Regions from separate parts of the Homo sapiens genome. Here regions 1, 2, 3, 4 and 5 are each linked to region 6. The links come from fine-mapping of genetic effects on gene expression. A gene starts in region 6. Each other region holds a variant in brackets. All regions are shown on one strand. Distances are from middle to middle. Region 1 has its middle 43 kb from the start of RFPL3. Region 2 overlaps LOC107985561 (a long non-coding RNA gene). Region 3 has its middle 4.3 kb from the start of RFPL3. Region 4 overlaps BPIFC (BPI fold containing family C). Region 5 overlaps LOC107985561 (a long non-coding RNA gene). Region 6 holds the start of SLC5A4 (solute carrier family 5 member 4).

Evidence for each region.
Region 1: its variant is fine-mapped to the expression of SLC5A4 in atrial appendage (GTEx, PIP 0.96).
Region 2: its variant is fine-mapped to the expression of SLC5A4 in iPS cells (HipSci, PIP 0.91).
Region 3: its variant is fine-mapped to the expression of SLC5A4 in visceral fat (GTEx, PIP 0.96).
Region 4: its variant is fine-mapped to the expression of SLC5A4 in lung (GTEx, PIP above 0.99).
Region 5: its variant is fine-mapped to the expression of SLC5A4 in subcutaneous fat (FUSION, PIP 0.95).

Annotation. Positions count from the first base shown.
Region 1 is chr22:32,312,513-32,316,512 of GRCh38, reverse strand. It overlaps a transcript of SLC5A4 not described here. Among named protein-coding and RNA genes, the nearest start is that of RFPL3, 43 kb to the left of the region's middle. The variant G/A (reference allele first, on the strand shown) is at 1,650.
Region 2 is chr22:32,318,159-32,322,158 of GRCh38, reverse strand. It overlaps LOC107985561 (a long non-coding RNA gene), which reads left to right. Exons shown (of 2, transcript XR_001755500.2): 2 at 1-4,000. It also overlaps a transcript of SLC5A4 not described here. Among named protein-coding and RNA genes, the nearest start is that of RFPL3, 38 kb to the left of the region's middle. The variant A/G (reference allele first, on the strand shown) is at 2,161.
Region 3 is chr22:32,351,028-32,356,112 of GRCh38, reverse strand. It overlaps a transcript of SLC5A4 not described here and a transcript of RFPL3 not described here. Among named protein-coding and RNA genes, the nearest start is that of RFPL3, 4.3 kb to the left of the region's middle. The variant G/A (reference allele first, on the strand shown) is at 3,510.
Region 4 is chr22:32,428,348-32,433,488 of GRCh38, reverse strand. It overlaps BPIFC (BPI fold containing family C), which reads left to right. Exons shown (of 17, transcript NM_174932.3): 12 at 946-1,116; 13 at 2,075-2,142. Among named protein-coding and RNA genes, the nearest start is that of RTCB, 19 kb to the right of the region's middle. The variant C/T (reference allele first, on the strand shown) is at 2,754.
Region 5 is chr22:32,331,198-32,335,197 of GRCh38, reverse strand. All of the region lies in intron 1 of LOC107985561 (a long non-coding RNA gene), which reads left to right. It also overlaps a transcript of SLC5A4 not described here. Among named protein-coding and RNA genes, the nearest start is that of RFPL3, 25 kb to the left of the region's middle. The variant A/G (reference allele first, on the strand shown) is at 2,316.
Region 6 is chr22:32,253,138-32,257,137 of GRCh38, reverse strand. It overlaps SLC5A4 (solute carrier family 5 member 4), which reads left to right and starts at 1,791. Exons shown (of 15, transcript NM_014227.3): 1 at 1,791-1,943; 2 at 2,925-2,996. The coding sequence starts at 1,809. All of the region lies in intron 2 of SLC5A4-AS1 (SLC5A4 antisense RNA 1), which reads right to left.

The DNA of each region.
Region 1 (4,000 bases), 59 kb before region 6:
ACTCTGCTTTTTCTCCCTAAATTTCCAGTCTTGCTCTATGAATATTGAGGCTATGCTATTTGGTACATGAACATTCATTACTGTTAGATCTTCATGGTGACTCTCATCCTTCACCCTCACACAGTGCCCTTCTTTTTTCTCATTCAATATGTTTTGCCCTGACTTCAGCTTTGTCTGATATTAAGATTATGACCCCTGATTTAGCTTCATTTGCATTTGTTTGTTATGCTTCTGCTCATCCTTTTTTTAAAATTATGGTAAAATGCACATAACATTTACCATTTTAACTATTTTTAAAGTATACAGTTCAGGGGTATTAAGTACTTCTCACTGTAGTGCAACCATCACCATCATCCACCTGCAGAACTTTATAAAAATCATCTGCCCTTTTTTTTTTTTTTTTTCAGACAGAGTCTCCTGGGTTCAAGCGATTCTCCTGCTTCAGCCTCCCGAGTAGCTGGGACTGCATGCACCCACCACCATGCCTGGCTAATTTATTTGTATTTTTAGTAGAGACGGGGTTTCATCATGTTGGCCAGGCTGGTCTTGAACTCCTGACCTCGTGATCTACCTGCCTTGGCCTCCCAAAGTGCTGAGATTACAGGTGTGAGCCACCATGCCCGGCCCTGCCCATCCTTTTCTATGAAACCTTGCTGAATCATTCTACCTTCAGTGCCCTTGTTTGTGATCCAGTCTCTTTTTTTTTTTTTTTTTTTTTAAGCAAGTGTGTATGGCTCACTAACATTTACAGATATGGCAGATGCATTTGGTCTTAGTTCTGTCATCATTGTTTGATAGGCTTTCTGCTTTTATAGTTTTGTGGGGGTTGTCAGTTTTCACCATACGGTCTCTGTTGTCTTTGTTTTATTTTCTGTGTGTATGTCTTCTGATAATTTGGAAAGCTGCGTTTTTGATCCCATGGTTATCTTCATAATTATAATATGACATGATATCTTTAATCCTTTTATTTCTCTAGACAGCGCTTATTTTCTCCCTACTGTGAACAATATCAAAATTAGAATATTTCTACTTTCCCTCTTCTTGTCTCCCTTCCATCAAGTTATTTTAGTTGATTATTTTTTGTTTACCTTGATGCCTCTAATTTTACTTAGACTTCTAAGCAATAATTTAGACCTCCAACTATATATGAATATGACATAGTTTACTTGTATTACCTCTCTCCTTCTCACCTCCACCCCTCCTACTTTTTATTATTTATGCCAGTTCTGTTTTGTTTCATTCTTCTCTGTGATGGTCATAATCTTTAGATTGGCTTTAATAGTCCTGCAGTTACACAAATTCTGTGCTCATTGCTGGCACTCTTGGCAGTGCTCCATTTACAACTTGACCCCTGATTTCTCTTCATTTGCATTTGTTATGCTTCTGCTCATCCTTTTTATGAATTGTGGTAGAATGCACATAACATATAACCATTTTAACCATTTTTAAGTATACAGTTCAGGGGCATTAAGTACCTTCTCACTGTAGGGCAACTGATATGGTTTGGCTGTGGCTGTACCCAAAGCTCATCTTGAATTGTAACTCCCACAATTCCCATGTGTCATGGGAGGAACCCAGTGGGAGGTAATTGAATCATGGGGGCAAGTCTTTCCCATGCTGTTTTCATGATAGTGAATAAATTTCATGAG[G/A]TCTGATGGGAATTTTCCTGCACAAGCTCGCTCACTCTCTCTGTCCCTTTGCCTGCCACCATCCACATAAGACGTGACTTGCTCCTCCTTGCCTTTCACCATGATTGTGAGGCCTCCCCAGCCATGTGGAACTGTAAGTCCAGTTAAGCCTCTTTCTTTTGTAAATTGCTTGGGTATGTCTTTATCAGCAGCATGAAAATGGATTAATACAGCAGCCATCACTGCCATCTATCCACAGAACTTTTAAAAAAATCATCTGCCCATCCTTTTACATTAAACTTTTCTGAATCATTCTTGATTTGCCTAAGGGTGTCCTTAATTTTTTTAAGAAGGGGTCATGGGAACTATAATTCAAAAATATGTTCAACATGTTTTTCTGTTGACTTTATATTTGAAAGATGGTTCATTGGGCTTTAAATTCTTGGTTCATTCATTTATTTGATAAACATTATTAAGCCCCTACAGTATGCCAGTTACTGTCCTAGGCCCTGGCAATGCAGCAATGTGTAAAACACACAATCACCTTAACCCTCTTGTAGCTAACTTTCTATGTGGGGAAGACAAACAATAAATTATTCAAGTAAGTACAATAGGTGGTATGCTGGATAGAGGTGTGTGCTATGGAGAAAAAAAAGTCGGTGATGGAGAGTACCTGGCTTTGTTCTGTGAAGCTGAGGAGATGGCCCCACGGAATCTCTCACCCTTAGCCCCTGTACACATTCCCACTGATGCAAAGAGTGGAGAGTAGGTTCTCCTTCTTGGCGTATCTCTCACTCTGGGGAGGTGGGCTTTGCTGGCTTTGTCGGAGCCACTCCCTTGACTTCTCCATTTGCCCAAAAAACATGTAGTTTGGTTGAAGATGGTTTATCAGTTAAGAACTGTCACCAGTTGCAATTTATGCAAGTAAAGGAAATTTGACTGCAGTGGTGTGGAGGGGGCAGTCCAGGGCTGCCACCAGAACCCAGTTTCTCCCTGCCTTCTACTCCACCTGTGTTAGTGAGCATCCTTCATTCTCATGCATGCAAGATAGTTCATCTTCCCCTGGATTTATGTCCCCTTCCCAATAGACTCCCACTTACATGACATTGGCCAGACTGGGTCATGTGACCACCCCTGCTTGCAAGGGAGTCTGGGAAGGTAAGTAGTTGTGGCTGGGCAATTGCTCTTGTAATAGACACAGGGCAGTGGGGTTCATGCTGCCTGCCACAGATGGAGTTTGTATTTCTTTTCCTCATTGTCTTGTTTGCAACTTGACTCTGCCATTCAAAGCTATAAGTGCCCAGCAGACCTGTTTCCACACTGTAGATCTTGTTCCACTGCTCTCCTGGCTCTTCCCTATTCCAGGAGCATCTTGGTATCTTCTCTATAGCTTTGTATGACATGGTCATGGTCATATCTTAGTGTCATTCCAAAATACAGGATCGTTTTTGTCAGTATGAATGGTATCTGTATCTGTGTTTAATATTTAGTTTGTTATAGCAAGGGTGACAGTATAATTTATCATCCAAATCAGAATACTTTTGAGGGTAAAAGGGGAACAACATTAAAAATTATGTCAGAACAACAAGTGTCAACTGAGACTGTCCCAAGCCATGACATATAATTACCCTAGTAACTGCTGAGGTCAATGCACACTGTTGCATTTTATAAATTGATCTGATGTCTTACAGGTTGACTATTATACCTCTATGTATGCACTCTCCATTCTACTAATTAACCTGTTGATTCTATTAAATTTTCTATGTAAGTTATCCACAATTAACTGTAATTTTGGTTCTTCTATTCCAGTCCTAGTCTATGCTTTTTTTTCTTGCCTTATTGCATGAGCCAGAGCTCTAGTACTATATGGAGCTATAATGATAGCGACATTTTTGTCTCGCTTCCAGTCTTAAAGTCACATGGTTCACAACGTTCAGAAGACAAAACCCATGTGTTCAGAGGAAACCTGGATTCTTCTGGCACTGAGGCCAGAGAGAAATGTCCCCAGTGAGTCCCCATTGAGGAGACACCATGTGATATTTTTTTTCCTTGTATTTCCTCCAGAAAACCCTTTTGCTGTGCCTCAGGATGGGGGAGATGAGATCTGAAATACCCAGTGCAGCCTCCGAGAAGGACAACTTCTACAGAGATGCCAGGGACAGCCGAGGTGGTAGAGAAGGGAATGCTGCCTGTGCCCAAAGCCCCCTTCTGCGGACTTCTAAGATTACGAGCAAACTCAGGGGTAGGGGCTGGGGGTGCAGGGGAGGGGATTCTGAGCCACCTGTCCACAAGCGATAGTCCTGTTTTGGGCTGGTGGCTTCTGAGAGGTGACTCATTGTGGCCTCAGGATGACCAAGACAAAGCAACTCTGG
Region 2 (4,000 bases), 65 kb before region 6:
ATTCTGGTTTCCAACCCTTAGGTCTAGAATGTTGAGCTGGTCACACCTCCTGGTCCCTAGCTCCAACATCAGTGGCTGTGATGGGTCCCTTACTGTACCTGCCCATTCTCCCACCCTCCAAGCCTACTCCGTCCACCCCACTCTTTCATCTTAATTGAGTGTGATGCCCAAATTATGCACAATGCTGGGAACATGGAAGTGTTTTCACTTGTCATGTATAGTATTTCTCACCTTTGACCCAACGTTTTATGTGCAAGACCTATGCATTCTGCCATAGGCGCTCTTGCACCCTCACTTCTGAGAACTGTATGGAAGACTGTATAGGCACCATGGAATACTATGCAGCCATAAAAAAGAACAAGATCATGTCCTTTGCAGGGACATGCATGGAGCTGGAAGCCATTATTCTTAGCAAACTAACACAGGAACAGAAAACCCAATACCACATGCTCTCACTTATAAGCGGGAGCTAAATGATGAGAACACATGGATACATAGAGGGGAAGGACACACACTGGGGCCCACTGAAGGGCGGAAGGTGGGAGGAGGGGGAGGACCAGGAAAAAATAACTAATGGGTACTAGGTTTCATGTCTGGGTGATGAAATAATCTGTACAACAAACCCCCATGACACACATTTAGCTGTGTCACAAACCTGCACGTCCTGCACGTGTACCCCTGAACTTAAAAGATTTGTGTTCGTTTTTGAGACAGAGTCTCGCTCTGCCATCCAGGCTGGAGTGCAGTGGCGCGATCTCAGCTCACTGCAACCTCCACCCCCTGGATTCGAGTGATTTTCCTGCCTCAGCCTCCCAAGTAGCTGGGACTACAGGTGCCTATCACCATGCCTGGCTAAGTTTTGTATTTATTTAGAGACGGAGTTTCATTCTTATTGCCCAGGCTGGAGTGCAATGGCACGATCTCAGCTCACCGCAACCTCCGCCTCCTGGGTTCAAGCAGTTCTTCTGCCTCAGCCTCCTGAGTAGCTGGGATTACAGGTGCACGCCACCATGCCCAGCTTATTTTTGTGTTTTTAGTAGAGATGGGGTTTCAACATGTTGGTCAGGCTGGTTTTGAACTCCTGACCTGGTGATCCGCCTGCCTCGGCCTCCCAAAATGCTGGGATTATAGGCGTGAGCCACCGTGCCCGGCCTTAAACGTTTCTTAAAAAGAAGCAGCTCATGCTAATGCAGTTCCCTAGGAAGGTGACGGGTTGCCCCTGAAGACCAGCTCCCGGGCTTCTTTGGGAAGTACACAGAGAGAGGTTGCCGGATCGTCCACAGAGCATGGTGGTGAGTCCCCTTCGCGGGTGTTCACTTACCTTTCAAATCATCTGATCTCCTAAGTTTGGCCGATTTGATGGATTTAAAGTGACATCTCACTGTCTTACGAATTTTGTTATCTAGGTAATGAATAGATTTTTTTTAAAGCAGTTTTAGGTTTACAGAAAAATTGAGCGGAAAGTACAGAAATTGCCCAGGGGAGGAAGGGTGGGAATTCAAGACTAAGGTTCAGGGCAGAGGGCTCAGCGTGTAAGTGGCATTAATGCCACAAATCATGAATCTCAATGACTAACACCCAGGAAAGGAAAGCAGAGCATGGGAGGTGGCTGAGGACAGCTGCCCAAGCCTGCCTGGTCTCTGCATGGCTCTCCATTGTGCAGGAGCTGTTGTTTTTGACCTGGCATCCTGCTGATGGAGACTTCACTGATCCTAATCTTCTGCTGTGACCCACCTTTGTGTGATGAATGTGCTTGTACCTATGTTGCCCTTGTGAGCATGTCTGTAGGATAATCGTTACGTGAGACTGCTGGGTCAGAGGATGTGGGCATCTGTACCGTAGGCATGTGTCAAATTGCCTTCCAAAGAAATGACCCCAGCATCCCCCCCACCAGCAGTGAAGCAGAAACCCAAACCAGCAAATGCATTGGGTGCTCAGCCCTTTTGATCAGTGTCAGGGTGGCAAGTGAAGGAATGCGGATGCTCCCTTTTGTCTGCGCTCTGAAATCCTCTCTCATTATGGCTTTAATTTGCATTTCTCTTATTTTAGAGTTTGGATTTGCTGTTTGACAGTTTCTCTCTTTCTTCTTGGCAACTGGTCTGTTTAGATTCTCCCTTCCCGGATCCTTTGGGTAATTTCTCTTTTCTTGGAAATTGATCC[A/G]TTTCTTGGAGGCTTCCTGGTTTCTGTAGAGTTGAGCAGGCAGTCGCTTTTGTTCTTCTGTTTGTTCAGTTCATCTTAATTGAGTGCTGACCCTGTGCTGGGCATCGTTATTGGCCCTGGGGATATAGTCATGGGCCAAAAGCAGCAAAAAGCCTGCTTTTATGGAGACTGCAGACAGTTTTTAAAATGTTTATGTGAAATATATGGACTTTTAGACAGCGATAATGCATTTGAGGTAAAGGATAATTTTAAACATGTGGCCAAGGGCTCACTAAAAAGGTGACTTAAAGGAGATCAGGGATTCAGCCTTGGGTTTATCTGGGAGAAGAGACAGGAGCATGCTGGTACAGATGGTGTATTAGTCAGTGTGCTCCAGAGGAACAGAACCAATCGCATATAGACACATATGAAGACACACACTGTAGGTAATTGGCTCCTGCAGCTATGCAGGTTGAGGAATCCAAAGGTCTGCAGTTAGCAAGCTGGGGACCCAAAAGAGCCGATGATGTGAGTTCCAGTGTCAGTCGAGGGCCTGAGACCCAGGAGAGCCAATGGTGAGAGTTCCAGTTTGATTTGAAGGTCTGAGACCCAGGAGAGCTGATGGTGTGAGTTCCTGTTTGATTTGAGGGTCTGAGACCCAGAAGAGCTGATGGTGTGAGTTCCAGTGTGAGTCGATGGCCTGAGACCCAAGAGAGCTGATGGTGTGAGTTCCAGTGTGGTCGAGGGCCTGAGTCCCAGGAGAACCCATGGTGTGAGTTCCAGTGTGAGTCGAGGACCTGAGACCCAGGAGAGCTGATGGCATGAGTTCCACTATGAGTCAAGGGCCTGAGAGCCAGGAGAGCCAATGGTGTGAATTTCAGTCCCACCCTGAGTCTAAAGGGAGGAGAAGAACGATGTCCCCACTTAAAGGCAGGCAGAGAGTGTGAATTCCCCCTTACTTGTTGGTTCTGTTTAGGTCTCCAGCAGGTTGGATGAGGCCACCTGCACAGGGGAGGACACTGTTTTCCTCCATCTGCCAGGTCACATGTTCCTCTCATCATGAAACACCTTCACAACACACCCAGAAAAATATCCCACCAAATATCAGGGCACCCTGTGGCCCAGTCAAATTGACACTAAACAAACCATTACCGTTGGAGTGGAGAGAATGAAAAGGAAAAGAGTGAGGAATAGGACAGGGAGGTGATGGGGTGGGAAGGGCTTTAGCTTCTACTCTTAGTGAATCTGGGAGCCACTGAGGGTTTTGAGGAAAGGGGTGGCATAATTGGACTTAGGTTTTCACAGGGCTTCTCTGGCTGCTGTGTTGAGAGCAGATGGAAGGGGCTGACCAGCACAGACACCCACTGCAAGAATCCTGCTAGTGTGGACCACAGTAGGAGTGGTGGAGGCAGCAGGAAGTGTAAGGCTTGTTGAGATTCCAAAGGAAGGGCCAATGGGATTTGCTCCTGGGTTGGATGTGGAGTGTGAGAGGAAAAGAGGGGTCAAAGATGACTCCAGGCCTCTGAGGAGAGCAACTGACAGGATGGAGTTGTATTTCCTGAGGTCAGAAAAATTGTGGGAAAAGCTAGATGGGGGAGGAAGGTTGGGATTTTCGTTTGGGATATATTAAGTTTGAGGTGTCTATTAAATATCAATTTGGTGACATCGAGTAGACACGTTGGCCATCAGAATGGAGTTTAGATGAGAGTTTGAGGCTCAAAAGTCATCAGCGTATCTCCAGCCTGGGTGACAGAGTGAAATTCCAGCTCCATCTCAAAAAAAAAAAAATCAACATATGCTGTTTAAATCCTTGGGAAGAGATGAGGTCCATGAGTGAGTAGAAAGAGTGAAGAGGAGGTCA
Region 3 (5,085 bases), 98 kb before region 6:
GAGAGCCAGGCTGTCCAGGACACTGTTGCATCGTCAAATTCATGAGGTCTTACATTTGGGGCCCGCCTCAATTCTTCACCTTACAGCAGGTTCAGAGATGGAAAAAAAAATGGGAGGAAGCCAGGAAGGAAACACACACAAAAGGCCAGCAGGTGGCTCAGGATGCTTGTGAAAGGTAGTATCCCAGCTGTGCAGGAAGCAGTGCAAGGAGGGTAATAGGTGTTCCCTTATTTCTATGAGAATATGCAAAGCATTTGCTCAAGGAGAGTTGGTTTTCTCAGTGTTGAAGCCAGCCATCTTTTCTTTTCTTTCTTTTTTTTTTTTTTTTTTTGAGACAAAGTCTCGCTGTGTCACCAGGCTGGAGTGTAGTGGCACAATCTTGGCTCACTGCAACCTCTGCCTCCCAGGTTCAAGCGATTCTCCTGCCAAAGCCAGGCATCTTTTCACGACTAAAAGCAAGTACCTGTCTTAACCAAGGCCTCAATATTGATGGGATTTGGTCTCTGACACATGCACAGGTGACCTGTGCACCTAGGGCTGCCTGGCAGCTCTAGGAAATGGCAATTCTGTCAGGTACTTGGCACAGAAAGTCACTGGCCTTCTTTGGAGGATGCATCATTTATGGAAACACTTCTTTATTGGATCCTGGGTCTCGGGTGGAAAACCAGGTCCCACATCAGGACTTTCTCTGTGAGGCTCCCAGGTTCTGGGGCTCCAGCTGCTGTCTGAGAGGAAGGTGTGGAGACAGAGAACATAGCCTAGAAGAGCCTGGAACTGAGACTTCCCCTTACCGAGGTTATGCAAATGAGGTTCTTGGACTACATATTCTGATTGGATGAGAAGAAAAACCTCTAGATCTACTCTGATTGGGCTTTATTTGCATGTTCTGATTGGATGAGAGCAAGTCTTAGGACAACCAATCAGAACATGATAACAAAGTCCAATCAGAGTAGGCCTAGAGGTTTTCCTCATCCAATCAGAACATGTAGCCCAGGAACTTCATTTGCATAAATTCTCATATATAAATGATGCCAAGTGGGGGGAGTTTTGTCATTCCAAGCTCTCCTGCGTCAGCTTGTGTAGCTGGTTAGTACTGGCTTAGAGGAAAAAGAAAACGAGTCACTTCCTGAGCACACTGGAGTCTGGAAGCTTAGAGGAAAAGGAGGAGGAGCAACTTCATTAGCACAGTGGAGGCTGGAGCCTGCCGTGGCTCACCTCGCTGCTGCCGTTGGTGCGGGCCAGGGAGACTAGAGCGCAGCCAGAATGGTAAAATGGTGGTGGGAAAAGTTCGCCATCCCAGGCCGTACTGCCTGTGGCGTGGCGTGGTGGGGTGGGTTGGAGGCCCTATCCAGGGCGTTACTGCCCGTGTTAGGAGGCTGGTTGGATGTGGTATCTGGGGCCTCACTGCCCACAGAGGGGAGTGGGTTGGGGGTGCTATCGGGTGTGCGCTGCCCGTGGCTGGGGGTGGGTTGGAGCACTATCCCAAGCTGTACTGCTAGCGGCAGTGGGGAGTTCTGGGGGCACTATCTGGGGATGCAGTGGCCGTGGCCGGCGGGCGAGTTGGAAGAACTATCGGGTGTTGCATTGCCCTTGTCAGGCACGGGTTGGGGGCGCTATCGGGTGCTACTCTGCCTGCGGTGGGCGGGACGTGTTATATCCAGGGCATCATTGCCTGCGTCTAGAAGCTGGCTGGGGGCATTATCCATAGCTGCACTGCCCACAGCAGGGAGCAGGTTGGCAGCACTATCTGGGGCTGCAGTGCTGTGGTGGGGGACGGGTTAGGCTCATTACAGGGTGCTACACTGTTGGCAGCAGGGAGGGGGGTGTTGAGGGCGCTTTCTGGGGCCTACACTGAGACAGAGATAGCAGGATTTATTGGGAGTGCTACTGGGGGCCAGACTGCCCGTGTAGAGGGGGTGGGAGGCTGGTTGGGGGCGCTATTGAGGGACGTATCCACTGCCCGTTTTGGGAGGGGGCGGGTTGGGTGCTATCAGAGGTCTGTACTGCGTGCCAGGGAGCTGGTGGGTGTGCTACCTGGGGCCACATTGGTTCCGGCGGGGCGGGTTGGGTGCGCTATCGGGGGCTACCTTGCCCGCGCAGGGGGTGGGTTGGGTGCGCTATCTGTGGCTGTACTGCCGGAGGCAGGGAGTGAGTTGGGGCGTCTCCCTGGGTTGCTGCTCCCAGTGGGGAGCAGGTTGGGGCACTATCCGGGGTTGCACTTCCCGCAGTTGGGGGGCGGTTTGGGTGCCATATCAGGGCATTACTGCCCCCAGCAGGGGTCTGGTTGGGGGCACTATTCGTGGCTACACTGTGTACGGCAGGGAGCGGATTGGGGGCGCTATCCCGGGCTGCACTGCCCGCGGCAGGGGGCGGGTTCTGGGCGCCATTGGGTGCTGCAGTGTCCGAAGCAAGGGCAGGTTGGGGTCGCCATTGGATGCTACACTGCCGGTGGTTGGGGGTGAGGTGTTGGAGGCGCTATCTGGGGGCTACACTGCCGGCGGCGGGTTAGGGGTGCTGTTGGGGGCTGCGCTGCCCCCCTGGTGCTGGTGGTGTCAGTGACGGGTGGTCAGAGGAGCGGTCCTCGTCTCCCCGGACTCCAGACTCTAGAGGGCCATCTCCTCCTGCTGGAGCGCGGCGGATGCACAGCGTTTCCGCGGGGATCCTGAGCACAATCCGTCACCTAGACCAGCCGTGGTTCCCAGGCCCGCGCCCTCTATGTGTTGCGGAAACTGCCTGGGACCCCCGGGCACGCAGTAGCTGACACTACGGGGTGATAGGGCCCCGTGGGTGGAGGCGTCAGGAACGGGAACCAGCACTAGGGTTGGGAGGGCTGGCTGGGGTTCAGTTTTTGCTGCTCCTGCTTCCCGAGGAACGCAGCCAGGGTGGGCCCAGCGGTTCTAGTAGAGTAGGAAGCCCGGGCACTGTGGTGTCTCCAGTCCCCACTCCAGGCCCTAGTTCCTGGCCAACTTGGGCCAAAAGGAGAGGCTGGACTTTGGAGGGTGGGCGTGAGTGCCTTCGCTGAAACCGGCCTCTGCCATCCAGTGGCCAGCATGCCAAGGTGAGGCTCTAACGCTACCACTCTCTGCATCCTGTTCTAGGCTTTCTTGGCTTTGCCTGCCCAGTTGTTTCATGCCAGGAGGAGGAGCCGCCTGCTGGAGGCTGGAGCTTGTGGCACCACCGCTCGCCTCGCTGTGGTTGGTGGCGGCCATGGAGACTAAAGACTCAGCGCTGGAGTGGTAGGAGGGCGGCAATGAAAACTGAAGAGCACCAGAGCGGTAGGATGGCGGCTGGCTGCCGCCAGGGCACAGGCAGTGCAGTGGTCAGGTGTTAGGAGCCTTGTAGGGTGGGCCTGTGCGTTGAGGGTGACAGCAGTAGTAGTTGTATTAGCATCGGTGCTAGTTGTGGCAGCAGCAGCAGCAAGTTTGGGGGCCGGGAAGGCAGGTCGGAGCGTTGGGGGGCAGCCCTGCCTGGCCTGGGGTGGGTAGGAAGCTGTGGGCCTCTGTGACAGC[G/A]GTGGAGGTGCAGCCAGGGGAAGGAGGAGTCTTCCCCGCATCTCCTGCAGAATCTGGAGGGCGCCCTCCTCCTGCTGGCACCTGAGTCAGGTGTGAGTGGCACCATTATGTTATTAACAGAAGTTTGGGGGGTAACTATTTGTGTATCATTTTGCTTGGTTTTTTGTCAGGGTAGTCTTGGACTTTTTTTTTTTTTAATTTCTGGGGTACATGAGCACAACGTGCATGTTTGTTACATATGTATCCATGTGCCATGTTGGTGTGCTGCACCCATTAACTCGTCATTTGCATTAGGTATATCTCCTAATGCTATCCCTCCCCCCTCCCCCCATCCCACAACAGGCCCTGGTATGTGATGTCCCCCTTCCTGTGTACAAGTGTTCTCATTGTTCAATTCCCACCTATGAGTGAGAACATAACGATGTTTGGTTTTTTGTCCTTGTGATAGTTTGCTGAGAATGATGGTTTCCAGCTTCATCCATGTCCTTACAAAGGCCATGAACTCATCATTTTTTATGGCTGTGTAGTATTCCATGGTGCATATGTGCCACATTTTCTTGGACTTTTTTAAATTTCATGAATCAGGAAGGGGACAAAATGTATAATAGGTCTCCTTGATTCTCTTACCTGTTCTTTTTCTTTTTTTCCAGCCTGGTTTTTCTTCTGCTTATCATCATTTTCTTGTTCCTGTTCATTTTCTTATGCTGCTGCTTCTATTTCTTGTGTCCTTTCTTGTTTCTCCTCCTCCTCCCTTTGTTTTCTTTATCACAAGCAATGGCCTTAACAAACAACAGTCCAAAACTGAGTTAAAAATAGACGACTTGTCATTGTATTCCACCCGCCCACCCCCCCCCCGCCCTCCCCCCACCGCCCCCACCCTCCCCCCACGCCCCCCACCCCCGCCCCGACGGAATCTTGCTCTGTTGCCCAGGCTGGAGTGCAGTGGTGATCTCTGCTCATTGCAACCTCTGTCTCCCAGGTTCAAGCAATTCTCCTGCCTCAGCCTCTTGAGTAGCTGGGATTACAAGCGAATACTGCTGTGCCCGGCTAATTTTTGTATTTTTAGTAGAGATGGGGTTTCGCCATGTTGGCCAGGCTGGTATTGAACTCCTGACCTTGTGATCTTCCCATCTCAGCCTCTCAGAGTGCTTGGATTACAGGCGTGAGCCACCTCGCCGGCCCAGTGTGTTGTATTTTAAAAATGATCGGTCCGTTATTGTTTTAGAGATGAGGAAAAAATCAGTTGGATAATTATTTAGATTCTTGAGTAGCTGTGCTTTCATATCCTGTTAATTCGTTGTAAGTAGTTATTTGGGGAATCAAAAAATGAAGCGTCAAATAAAATATTGGTTGCAAACAGCCATTTTCTCTCTCTCCCATATTAGTCTGGAGATAGGCAAGAGGCATGGAGGTAATAAGTTCCAGTGTATGAGATCATTAAGAGAACCATATTCCCTTCATTTTATTTCTCTGCCACCATTTTCTGAGAGTATTGTCATCTGCATAAGCAAATTTGGTTCATCACATCGTTGCAACAGGAAAAGGAAGGGGAGGATCATGTGGAATTATAATGTTT
Region 4 (5,141 bases), 180 kb before region 6:
TTCCACAATATTCCATCATACTTGAAATAATTAGTTTAAATAAAGGATTTATTAGTGGAAATGAAGGATTCAATTCTTAAATGAAGGATTAGTGCCCACACTTGTAACTGTAGTAAAAAGCAACTGTTAATATTGTGCCTTCGTAGCACACTAAGTATTGAACATAATGAACCTACGGGCTAGGGATTGCCCTTGAGGACAAAGAGATGTTCATGTAGCATCCTGGTTCTAGAGCAAGGATCTTGAGTCAGATAGACCTAGATTTGTTTTTGTTTGTTTGTTTTTTGAGACAGGGTCTCGCTCTGTCATCCAGGCTGGAGTGCAGTGGCACGATCTTGGCTCACTGCAATATCCGCCTCCCCTGCTCAAGTGATCCTCCCAACTCAGCCTCCCAAGTAGCTGGGACTACAGGCACAAGCCACTATGCCCAGCTAATTTTTCTATTTTTTGTAGAGGCAGGATTTCTCCATGTTGCCCTGGCTGGTTTCAAACTCCTGGCTTCAAGTGATCCACCGATCTCAGCCTCCCAACGTGCTAGGATTACAGGCATGAGCCACTGTGCCCAGCCCAGACCTAGATTTGAATCCCAATTCTACCACTTATTCCCCTAGAACCTTGAGAACATCATTTAACCTCTGTAAGACTCACGTTCTCCACTATGAAACAGGGATGCTGATAGAATCTGCCTCACAGGGATTTTCTGAAGATTAAATGTGATAATATATAAAGCCCCTGGCACAGTGGGTAGTATCAAGTATTATGTTCAGTAACTGCCAACTGTTATCATCGTTTGATTTTTGTGTGTAATTATGATTATTAAAGAGCTTTTTTTCTATTCTAACTGCACAATGTAAGATTTAGTCACCACAGGCCATCCTAACCTTGTGATCTCCCTTCACCAACTCACGCCTCACAATCTTTATTTCTTTCTCGGAATGTGGGCAGATTGCAGAGATCTACATCTTGTCCCAGCCCTTCATGGTGAGGATCATGGCCACAGAGCCTCCCATAATCAATCTACAACCAGGCAATTTCACCCTGGACATCCCTGCCTCCATCATGATGCTCACCCAACCCAAGAACTCCACAGTTGAAACCATCGTTTCCATGGACTTCGTAAGTCTGGGGAGACAGTGGAGCAGCCTGTAGATGCCAATCCTGCTCCTGCTGTGGACTGTTGGCCAGCAGCTTTTAAACGTTTGAAGAGGGTGGGGATGCTACATTGATTAAGAGTGAGGATGGAGGCTGGACGTGATGGCTCATGCCTATAATTCCAGTGTCTTGGGAGGCTGAAGCAGGAAGATTGCTTGAGGCCAGGAGTTAGAGACCAGCCTGGGTAACATAGCAAGACCTCATCTCTCCAAAAAAAAAAAAATTGTTTGAATTAGCCAGGTGTGGTGGTGTTGTGCACCTGTCATCCTAGCTACTCAGGAGGCTGAGGTGGAAGTGTTGCTCTGAACCCAGGAGTTTGAGGCTACAGTGAGCTATGATTGCACCACTGCACTCCAGTCTGGGCAACAGGGTAAGACCCTGTCTCAGTGAGGTCAGAGTTGAGGGAAGGGTATGTGTGGCAGGATGGGAGGTAAGCACTCACACTCTCATACATTGTAAAATCTCTCCAGTCTCTACTTCATGCACGCTCTTCCCACCACCTACCTCAGTTACATGGACAGCTGGAATTCTCTCTTTTTTTTTAATCTAAATAAGTCAATCAAGGTAGAATTCATTTTTACTTGAGCAAATGAAGGCCAAATGCAATCTGATAGAAGGACATAATAAACCTAACAAAAATGTCATACGCACATAGGCACATACACACACATACATAAAGAAGAGCGATTAGGAGAAAAAAAAAATTCAAAGGAGATCATCAAACAAAAAGTCTTTGCAGGTAGCTTCCCTAACTACAAGACAGGATTTTCAGAGGTCTGTATTTCCAATGTCTTTTAGACTTCCAATGTCTTTACACTAAGGGGGAATGTTGGGCTTATAATGTTTCAACTATTGGAAATTATACTGATGGCCAAAATTGACACTCACTCGTCTTAATAATAAATGCTTTTATTGTCTATAGGTTGCTAGTACCAGTGTTGGCCTGGTTATTTTGGGACAAAGACTGGTCTGCTCCTTGTCTCTGAACAGGTAAGATCAATCAATTTGACTGTTGGGGCACCTTAGTAATAAGTGAGTCAACTGATCAGAGACAAAGTGACCATTAAGAAAACAAGTGATCTGTAATCTCAGCTACTCAGGAGGCTGAGGCAGGAGAATCGCTTGAACCCGGGAGGCAGAGGTTGCAGTAAGCCAAGATCACACCACTGCACTCCAGCCTGGGTGACAGTGAGACTCTGTCTCAAAAAAAAAAAAAAAGGGACGTTAACCATTGTGTGAACATGAGTCAGTTAAGCACCTCTCCTGTAATGGGCCAGATAACTTTAAAGTATGTACTTTACTAAAAATGGTACTGTCAAGCTTTTCTTTTTTCCATTATAGTAACATAAAAATAAAATAGGGAACAAAATAATTATAAATATAATTTTGTAATATGGTCAGGTGCCATCTTACAGGCTCTCACCTGTAATCCCAGCAATTTGGGAGTGGGAGGATTGCTTGAGGCCAGGAGTTTGAGCCCAGCCTGGGCAACAAAGTGAGACCTCATCTCTACAAAAGCTTTTTTAAAAATTAGCTAGGCGTGGTGTGCACCGCTGTAATCCCAACTACTCAGGAAGCTGAGAGGGAAGAATTGCTTGAGC[C/T]CAGGAGTTTGAGATTACAGTGAGCTATGATCGTGCCACTGCACTCCAACCTGAGCAATAGAATGAGACCTTGTCTCTCAAAAAAATATATCTCTCTCACATATTTTATATTATATATTTTATATACATATACAAATTAAATACATAAAATATTACATATGTAATAAATATATTTTTATATTTATATAAAACATTTTATAAAATATATTATGTTTTATATATTATATTTATTTCCTATATTTTATTTTTATTTATTTTATATAAACATACAAAGAATATATATATAATTCTGTAATAGAAGTGTACATTCTAATGGTACAGCAATATAAACTTCAGTTCTTCTTTATCAAATTCATAGAGCATGCTAGTGAGGAAAGAGCATAAAGCTTTGGGAGTTAAGGAACCAAGTTTCCAGTCCTTATTCACAGGCTCTATGACTGTGATCCAGTCTGTTAACCTCCTTGAGCCTCAGTTTCCTTATCTGCAAATAAGGAAGTTGAACTGGATCATGCCTAAGGTACCTTCAGACTCTGACCATCTGATCCCATTACTAGAACAGAGAAGTTAACAAGATCTTCCCCATGGCCTGTCTGACTGTCAAATGCATGTGACACACGGTGAAAGGCCATGTGCAGGCCACAGACGCAGATCATTGACCACTAAGTGCCATTCGGCAGAACCGTCTGCAAAGCCCATTTTCCTCAGCCCTATAAAGCTGGTAGTTGAAGTCATCCATCAGACTACCTGGGGGGAGAATTTACAGAAAGATTAGACGGCATAGACTAAATGTATGGAAGAAAAGGAAGCAATGAAACAGACGTAAGCAGAGTCAGAAAAGATCTGAGAAACCAGCAGAGGGGGAGTAAATCAATCACAAGTCAACGTGGTAGTTATGAAGTCTATTGTGGAAACATGGAAAATGGCCAGGCGCGGTCGCTCACACCTGTAATCCCAGCACTTTGGGAGGACGAGACAAGTAGATGATGAGGTCAGGAGTTCGAGACCAGCCTGGCCAACATAGTGAAACCCCATCTCTACTAAAAATACAAAAATTAGCCGGGCATGGTAGCATGTGCCTGTAATCCCAGCTACTCGGGAGCCTGAGACAGAAGAATTGCTTGAAGCCGGGAGGTGGAGGTTGTGGTGAGCAGAGATTGCGCCACTGCACTCCAGCCTGGGCAACAGAGCGGGACTTCATGAAAAAAAAAAAAAAAAAAAAAAAAAAACAAAGGCCAGTTGCCATGGCTCACGCCTGTAATCCCAGCACTTTGGGAGGCTGAGGCGAGCGGATCATGAGGTCAGGAGATCGAGACCATCCTGGCTAACATGGTGAAACCCCGTCTCTACTGAAAATGCAAAAAATTAGCTGGGCGTGGTGGCGGGCGCCTGTAGCTCCAGCTGCTTGGGAGGCTGAGGCAAGACAATGGCGTGAACTCGGGAGGCCGAGCTTGCAGTGAGCCGAGATGGCGCCACTGCACTCCAGCCTGGGGGACAGAGCGAGACTCCATCTCAGAAAAAAAAAAGAAAAAGAAAAAAAGAAAAGAAACATGGAAAATGTTTTCAAGAAAATTATGTTAAATGGAAAAAACAGAATACAAAACTGCACAAACACAACAGCTGTTAATTGTATAAAATAGCTTTGCATCTGGAAGAGGAAAATAGCTTTGCATCCGGAAGAGGAAAATAGCTTTGCATCTGGACAAGGAAGTGAATCACAAAACTGAAAATGAAGAGTTGTATTAGGATATGGGATTATGAGAGGGTTCTTTTTTCATTAAAATTTTCTTTGTAAGTATATTGTTTTTCCAACAAAGGGAATATAATTTTGTTTTTTTTTGAGATGGAGTGTTACTCTGTCACCCAGGCTGGAGTGCAGGGGTGCGATCTCGGCTCACTACAACCTCCGCCTCCCGGGTTCAAGTGATTCTCCTGCCTCAGCCCGCCAAGTAGCTGGGATTACAGGCGCCTGCCACCACACCTGGCTAATTTTTGTATTTTTTAGTAGAGATGGGGTTTCACCATGTTGGCCAGGCTGGTCTCAAACTCCTGACCTCAGGCGATCTGGGGCCTCGGCCTCCCAAAGTGCTGGGATTACAGGCGTGAGCCACCATGCCCAGAAATACAATGTTTTGTTTGTTTGTTTGTTTGTTTAAAGTAGTATGGTTTCCCAGAAAGAAAAGGTTTTACGAAGGTTTACTCGCATTTACCAAGCCCTTCAAAGCAGTCCTGACTTCTTCATTAGCTTCCTTTAGGCACAATAGGCACAGTGCCTAGAGCCACAATACTTTAAAAGCCCATGAGAGGCCGGGCAGGGTGGCACACACCTGTAATCCCAGCACTTTGGGAGGCCAAGGTGAATGGATTGCCTGAGCCCAAGAAGTCGAGGCT
Region 5 (4,000 bases), 78 kb before region 6:
GCAGAGCCAGAGAAGCACAGCTGCAGGGGTGTCCCAGGGCTCCCAGTGTCCTTGGGTTTTCCATCTGTGTCTGGCTCTCCTTCCCGACCACCTACCCTAGGCTGGCAGACCCTGTGACCCTCCCTGTGATCTCTTGGAGGCAGGATGGGCCTGGCTTCAGCCTCCATGCGAGCTGGCCCCGCTCTCTCCCTGCCCAGCACTGCGGAGCGTCCCTTCTCTGAGCCTCCACGGTCCCTTCTGGACCTTCACTGCCCAGCTCCTCCTACAAGTGTGGAAACTCAAGTCCTTATCATAAATGCCCTATTCCATGAAGCCATGGCTGCTGTGTCCCTGCCTGGACTCTGACCAATACTGTTGTCACTTGTTTCTAAGGGACATGTCCTTGTCACCCTTCAGGGCCTCAAGCCCAGATGTGTCCCCCGATCAGTGTGTACGCTTACTGGAGTGCCGCTGACGTCCTCCCCAAAGCCATGATTCAATCCCTGGGACATCTCACCGTTGACAGCATCCAAGAGGGAGGGAGCTTCGGGACTCCAGTCTGCAGGGTTGTCGAGATGGGAGAGTGGTTCCGTTCGTTTAAGGGAAACATGGAGCCAGCGAAGCACGGGGACTTGGTCAGGTGGGGGTTTTGGTGAGAGGCCACTACCACACAGCTCACAGCAGCCAACCAGCAGGAATGGAGGCAGGGAGGCCCGGGGGGAGGCCATCACTGTGCCCCAGGCAGTGGGGGGACACAAGGCAGTATTTTGGAGGTAGTGCAGGCAGGAGCCACAGAGGAATTGGATGTTGGAGGGGCACACTGAGGACGAGGACAACTCGAGGGTCTGAACCAAGAGACACGTGGTGTTGCTGCTGACCAGGAAGGACAGTGCTGGAGGGGCGGGGCTGGGCACAGGGTCGTGCATTGTTACCACCATGGGACGCCAGCACCAGGGGAGAGGTGGAGAGGGCAGAGGTGGGTCCTGAGGGGCTAGGACAGGTCACAGGTGAGCAGGAGTCTGTGTGGCATGGTGTGTGCATTGTGTGATGTCTGTGTGGCATGGGGTGTGTGTGTTGTCTGGCATGGTGTGTATATGTATATTGTGTGGGTCTATGTGATGTGTGTGTGTGTGTTGTCTGGCATAGTGTGTGTATATTGTGTGAGTCTGTGGCATGGTGTGTGTGTGTGCATGGTGTATCTGGCATGGTGTAGTGTGTGTAGTGTGTCTGTGTTGCATGGTGTGTGTGTATATTGTGGGTCTGCAGCATGGTGTGTGACGTGTGTCTATGTGTATGTTGTGGGTATGCAGCATGGTGTGTGGCATGGGGTGTGTGTGTATGTGTATTGTGGGTGTCTGTGGTGTGTGTGTGTATATTGTGAGGGTCTATGTGGTGTGTGTGTGTGATATTGTGTGGATCTGTGTGGCATGGTGTGTGTGTTTATGTGTATTGTGGGTGTCTGTGTGGCATGGTGTACGTGTGTGTATTGTGGATGTTTACTGTCCTGGGCAGTAGAAAGGACGTTGGGGAAGCAGCCCCAGCATCAGGGGCGGGCCAGGAATGCAGAATGCATGGAAGCTGGTCAGGTCAGAGCCCGGGCTGAAGGAAGCACGGAGATGCAAGGGCACCAGGGCCTGTGGGACCAGGAGCCGATGATCAGGGCCACAGTGCACACAGCCTTGGAGGTAAAGGACACATTCATTTCATAAGGATTAAAAAGCATGGGCTAAGTCTGGGCCCCAGGCCAGGACTGGGGATACAGAGTGGATCAGTCCCCATCCCTGCCCTGAGGTGCTTACCTACACCCATTCACCTCACAGGTTTCCCCACTCTGGCCCCTTGGCGAGCTCCTACTCATTCCTCAAAACCTCACTGAGGTCATGCTCCTTCCGGAGGCCTCTCCCCATCCTCTAAAAGACCCCTCTGCCTGCTGCCCACTTCCAGCACAGTCAGAGAGCCCCGTGGCCTGTTTCCACTGGACTGGGTGAGGGCAGGACTGGTCTGAGTCTTCTGGGGGGGGGGTGCCAGTGCTAGAGCAGAGTCCTGGGCTGGGAGTCCCGGCACCTCATTCCACTCCTACACCCACAGACTCACTGTTTAACCTCGGGCAGGCCACGTCCCTCCTCGGCCTCACTTTCCCCTTGTGTAAGATGAGGGAAGGGACTGAGGCTTCTAAGCCATCTCTCAGCTTAAAACCTCTTTGACTTTCTATCTGGCTAATGGAGATGCTGATCAGGGGTAAGAATGGATTTGAAAAACGCTTTGAAAAATTCATAGCAGGAGGCAAAGGAGAAAGAGTCTTTATTTTCGCAGAGTGGGAGGCAGGAGTTACGGAC[A/G]GAGGCTGCCGATGAAAAGGACAGCATCTCAGAGCACTTTGTGGTATTTAATGTCTAATGCATCCTCCCGTTAAAGCAGTGGCATCAAATATTTACCAAAGCAGTATTAAAAATTAACCTTTACCATGGGGATGTATAAAGTCCCTAAGTTCCCCGAGAAGTGTCTGAACGTCAGGAGGGTAAAGCGACAGGAAGGCAGGCTACAAGTGAGGTGTGAATAATGGAAGCCTCTAAAACTGACACAGCTCCCTGTTGACCCCACTCCCAACGCCAGGGCAGCCTCCGGCCCTGTCTCTGCAGAGGCTCCCAGCCCCTCAGAGACTCCCAGAAGGCCCGCAGGATAAGGACAGGCCCTCAGCTGGGCATCCACAGCTTTCCATGGCCTGGCCCTGCCTCTCGGGGCAGCTGGGATCTGTAGGATGGAAAGGAATGAGCCTGTCGGAGTTGGAAGAGACCAGGGGAGGAAGTGGGAAGTAAGTGGTCCAGGCACTGGAAATAGCATGTGCAGAGGCACTGAGGCAGAGACAGCCGCACATCCATCCATCTGAAGGGCAGTCAGGTGGCATGAGTGTGGGGGAGGAAGTGCAGGAGGGGACGGGTGGCAGATGCAAGTAGGTCTGACTGTGCAGGGCCATGGTGAGATGTGGGCTTCTTAGTCCAGGGACAAGGGTGCCCTCGAGGAGAGTGACAGGAGGCACTTGCCTTTGGGAAGGGAGCTGGGAGTCCACCGGAGAGGCTGCCACTGTCTCACGAGCTGCAGCCATGTCTGCGGCTTGGCCGAGGGTGGTGGTGGGGAGGGGCCGGCACCAGGGAGTGGAGTCCATGGGATTGGCCAGGGCCTGGGGTGGGGGCTGAGAAGGAGGTGGGGGTCCAAGGAGGATGTCTGGGCCCCTGGGCTGAGCAGCCTGGGAGATTTTCCAAGATGGGGACCTTGGGGCAGATGTGGCTTTGGGCTCAGCAGCATGGAGTGTCTTGAGTTTGAGATGCCCCGAGAGACCACTGCAATGGGCCTGGGGAGGAGCAGCCCCCACCCGTGGCAGGAGGAACCCCAGGGCGAATGGGGTCTGGAAGCCGCGAGAGGATCAGGGCAGCCGAGGGGCATGGGATCTGGCCTCGGATGTGGGCTGCGTGTCCTGCCCTCCGCCTGTCGCTCCTGCGATGTCCCTTGCTTCCCATGCCCACGTCCCCATCCCAGGTACAATCCGTGGGCTCCAGCAACACAGCAGGCACTGTCCTGTCTGCCAGAAGCCGCTGGGCATAGCTGGCACCAAATAGCTTTGTCATCTCCACCCCACCGCTTGCCTTTTACTATAGCTGGGTTGCCCGCCAGCTTCTTCCTGAAGGAAACAAAGTTTCCGTGTGTCATTATTTAGATTATGCGGCGCCCTATAAAGCACAAAATAATTCTCATTGTCCTCAAGCAGGATCTTTATTTTGGTATTTCCTGGAGACCAGGGGAGCTGACTGGGGCGCGAGGGAGTTTGCAGAGCACGGCCATTTCCCCCGTGCCGCCATCTCGCCAGCGGCGTTTTTCTTGCCATTTTGCTGGAAACTCAGGCTCAGAGAGGCCAAAGCACGTGTCCAAAGTCAAACAGCCAGGGAGAGGCTCTCCCAGAGCACCTACAATGTGCCTTGGTGCCCCAACACACACACAGCCCCCAACACACAGCCCCCAATACACACAC
Region 6 (4,000 bases):
TCAAAACTATATTGTGATACCCACTTGATACCTACTAGCCTGTCTATAATTAAAACATAAATGACAAGTATTGAAGAGGATATGGAGAAATTAACTCTCCTATGCACTGTGGAAAGAATGTAAAATAGTGCAGCTGCTGTGAACAACAGTTTGGCAGTTCTACAAAAAGTTAAACACAGAATTATCACATGCAATTCCACTTCTACATATAGACTCAAAAGAATTGAAAGTAGGGATTCAAACAGATCCTTGCACACCAGTGTTCTCAGCAGCATTATTTATAATAGCCAAGTATAGAAAGAACCTGAATGCCCATCAACAGTTGAATGGATAAACAAAATGTGGTATATATGAGTATTGGAATATTATTCAGCCTTAAAAAGGAAGGAAATTCTGATACATGCTACAATATGGATGAACCTTGAAAATGTCATACTAAGTGAAATAAACCAAAGAGGAAAATATTGTATGATTTCATTTGTATGAGGTACCTAGAATAGGCAAATTTATATAGTAAGAAAGAATAACAGAGGTTACCAGGGCCTGGAGAGAGGGAGGGATGGGGAGTTAGTTTTTAGTGGGTACATACTTCTGTTTGGAGATGATGAAAAAGTTCTGGAAATGGATAGTGGTAATGGCTGCATAACACTGTAAATGTACTTAATGCCAATGAATTGTACACTTAAAAGGGATTAAAATGGTAAATTTTATGCTATGTATGCTTTGCCACAATAAAAAATGAAGTATAAAAGAAGAATTTCTGGGCTTTCCGTTTTTTCATGTGTGTTTTTGGTTTTGTTTTTTTGTTGTTGTTTTTTTTGTTTGTTTTTGAGACAGGATCTTGCTCAGTTGCCCAGGCTAGAGTGCAGCGGCGTGATCATGGCTCACTATAGCTTTGACCTCCCAGTCACAGGTGATCCTCCCTCTTCAGCCTCCCAAGTAGCTGGGACCATACGTGTGCATCACCACACTCAGCTAATTTTTATAGAGACAAAGACTCCCTATGTTGCCCAAGCTGGTCTTGAACTCCTGGCCTCAAGTGATGCTCTCTCCTTGGCCTCCCAAAGTGCTGGGATTACAGGTGTCAGCCACCGCATAGGCTTTACTTCTAACTTCTTCTTGGCTGTAGTCCAGGAGTCTTGTTTCCTGAGTCCTCATGATCCCCATCACATGCTTCCAGGTTGATTCACTCTTTGTACAACCCTCTGACCCAGCGCTCTCCACAGCTCTGCCCTCAACTCACCACATATGGTGCTTGAAGAGCCACTTCCTTTCCTATACAGGCCACCAATGTCTTTTTGTGGCACATGAAACCCACTTCAGAGAAATGTGGGACTTTGGAATCCACGAAAGGCATAATTCACTTCACTGTCAAGGGATATAGCTCATTGGTCAGAAACTGTATCTGTTCTCTGAAGGACCATTGCATTCGGTCCCTCCTGGCTGGTTTCTGGTACCTTCTAGTCTGTCCTTCTCCCCTCCTTGTCTGTCTTCATTTCTCTCAAATCCCCCCTCCACCTGGGCAAATCTCTTTAAAGACCCTGTCTTTGCACTCAGAGAACGCCCCATGCTCCACCTCAAATTCTCCCCTCATTTCTGGCCCTGCATCCCTCATTCTCACACTCTACCTAGGCTAGCACTCACTGGTGGAGGGCTGGGGTGCCACAGCTTTGGAGAAGAGGTTTAAAGGTCTCCATATCCAGGAGCTGGCTCTGATATCTCGCCCCACCTGCCTGAGGCTGATCATTAACCCAGAACTTATATAAAGATGGCTCATGCGTGGAATGGGTATAGCACTGCCTGCAGCCATGGCCAGTACGGTTAGCCCCAGCACCATAGCTGAGACCCCAGAGCCACCTCCATTGTCTGACCACATCCGAAATGCTGCTGACATCTCAGTCATTGTCATCTATTTTCTGGTGGTGATGGCTGTTGGGCTGTGGGTAGGTGGAATCCCAGTGGCTTTTAGGGTGGGCACAAGGTTTAGGAGGGGGTATCTTAAGGGGGGAAGGGGTGTGGTTGTGACAAAGCTTTTCACAAATGTCATTGTGTTATCAGAATCATTTTCTTGTGTGTTGCATAAATAACGCTTACAATGAACTAATGTATTCTCCTAATAACCCCATCGTGTGCACACAGCCAGCACCGGGACCTTCAGATTTACTATGCATCCCCAACACCTGGCATAATGGACAAAGAGTGTATTTTTATTATCGCATTTCTTTCGCTTTCTTTTGTTGTTTGCTCACTTTCTGATTTAGTGAGTTGGACTCTTCATTTATGTTGAATTTTTTTATTTTAATAAATTTGAGACTGCAAATTTTTTTTTTTTTTGAGACGGAGTCTTGCTCTGTCGTCCAGGCTGGAGTGCAGTGGCGCTTGCTTGGCTCACTGCAAGCTCCGCCTCCTGGGTTCACGCCATTCTCCTGCCTCAGCCTCCCAAGTAGCTGGGACTACAGGCATGCGCCACCACGCCCGGCTAACTTTTTGTATTTTTAGTAGAGACGGGGTTTCACCATGTTGGCCAGGATGGTCTCGATCTCTTGACCTTGTGATCCACCCGCCTCGGCCCTCCAAAGTGCTGGAATTACAGGCGTGAGCCACCGTGCCCGGCCGAGACTGCAAATTTTATTGCAAGCATGGCTCAATGATACCTCACATGGTTTTCATAAGTGAGAATAATCAGAGCAGTTAAGATAGAAGTTAAGGATTATGATTTTTTTAAGTTCTTCCAGCCCTGGGTTTTTACAAAGCGACTGTTTTTGAAGTCCTTTAAAATTTGATGCTATAGAACACTTTCCAGCGAAATGTTTCTCTCTGTAGGAGTGCTGAAGTCACCCCTCTCAGCACCCTGGCCAGAGCCTCTGGGGTGTCTGGGTGCACTTGCTGGGGCTTGACCCTCACCTGTCTTCCCTTCTGCTCAGGCGATGCTGAAGACCAACCGAGGTACTATAGGAGGCTTCTTCCTCGCTGGTCGTGATATGGCCTGGTGGCCGGTAAGTGGATCGAAGTTTTCTGGAGATAAATTTCCTGTGTGTGTGCTTAAAACTGAATGTAGGCTGGGTGCGGTGTCTCACGCCTGTAATCCCAGCACTTTGGGAGGCCAAGGCTGGCAGATCATCTGAGGTCAGGAGTTCGAGACCAGCCTGACTAACATGGTGAAACCATCTCTACTAAAAATACAAAAATTAGCTGGACGTGGTGGTGTGTATGCCTGTAATCCCAGCTACTCAGGAGGCTGAGGCAGGATAATCACTTGAACCTGGGAGGCAGAGGTTGCAGTGAGCCTAGATCACACCACTGCACTCCAGCCTGGGCAACAAGAATGAAACTCCATCTCAAAAAAAAAAAAGTGAATGTAGACAACATTGGGAATGTTGATCATTTCTGATGTACATTGGTTGCCTACTCGCTGGGGCTCCTTTCCTAAATCCCCGACTTCATGGCTCCTCTCTGTAATTCCAGGACATTACAATATGTCACCTATTATGACAGCCGGTTCAGTCTGGCACTGAAGGACCCCAGCTCAGCCCCACCTTATATTCTTTTCTTCTGCTCCTTATCAAGAGTCTTCTCCTGGCTTCTTACAAGCTCTGCGCATTCCTGCTTTGTTGCCAGTCCTGAGCTGATGCTGGCCCTCTTGTTAGGATTGGCCTCCCCTTGTCTGCTGTCCTCTTTCAATGCCTCACCTCAGCCCTTTCTCATCTGAGGAGCCTCCCGGCTCTCTCCATGGGTCCCTATGTCCCATGCAGTTATTGGTTGTGTTCCCTGTGATGGTGCTAATGCTGATGCCTCTTGATTCTTGCCCAGTGGGTGTTCTTGTGGGGTTTTGATGTGTGACCCCCTCAGCCAGGGTCCCACTGCAGCAGAGGCTGTATCTTCCCCTCTGCACCTGGAGAGTGTCAGCCCAGCATCACATTATACAGTGGGTGCTTAGCAAATGCTTCCTTCACAGATCTGACTCATTTTCTAAATGGTATGAGGGGAAGTGGAGATGGGC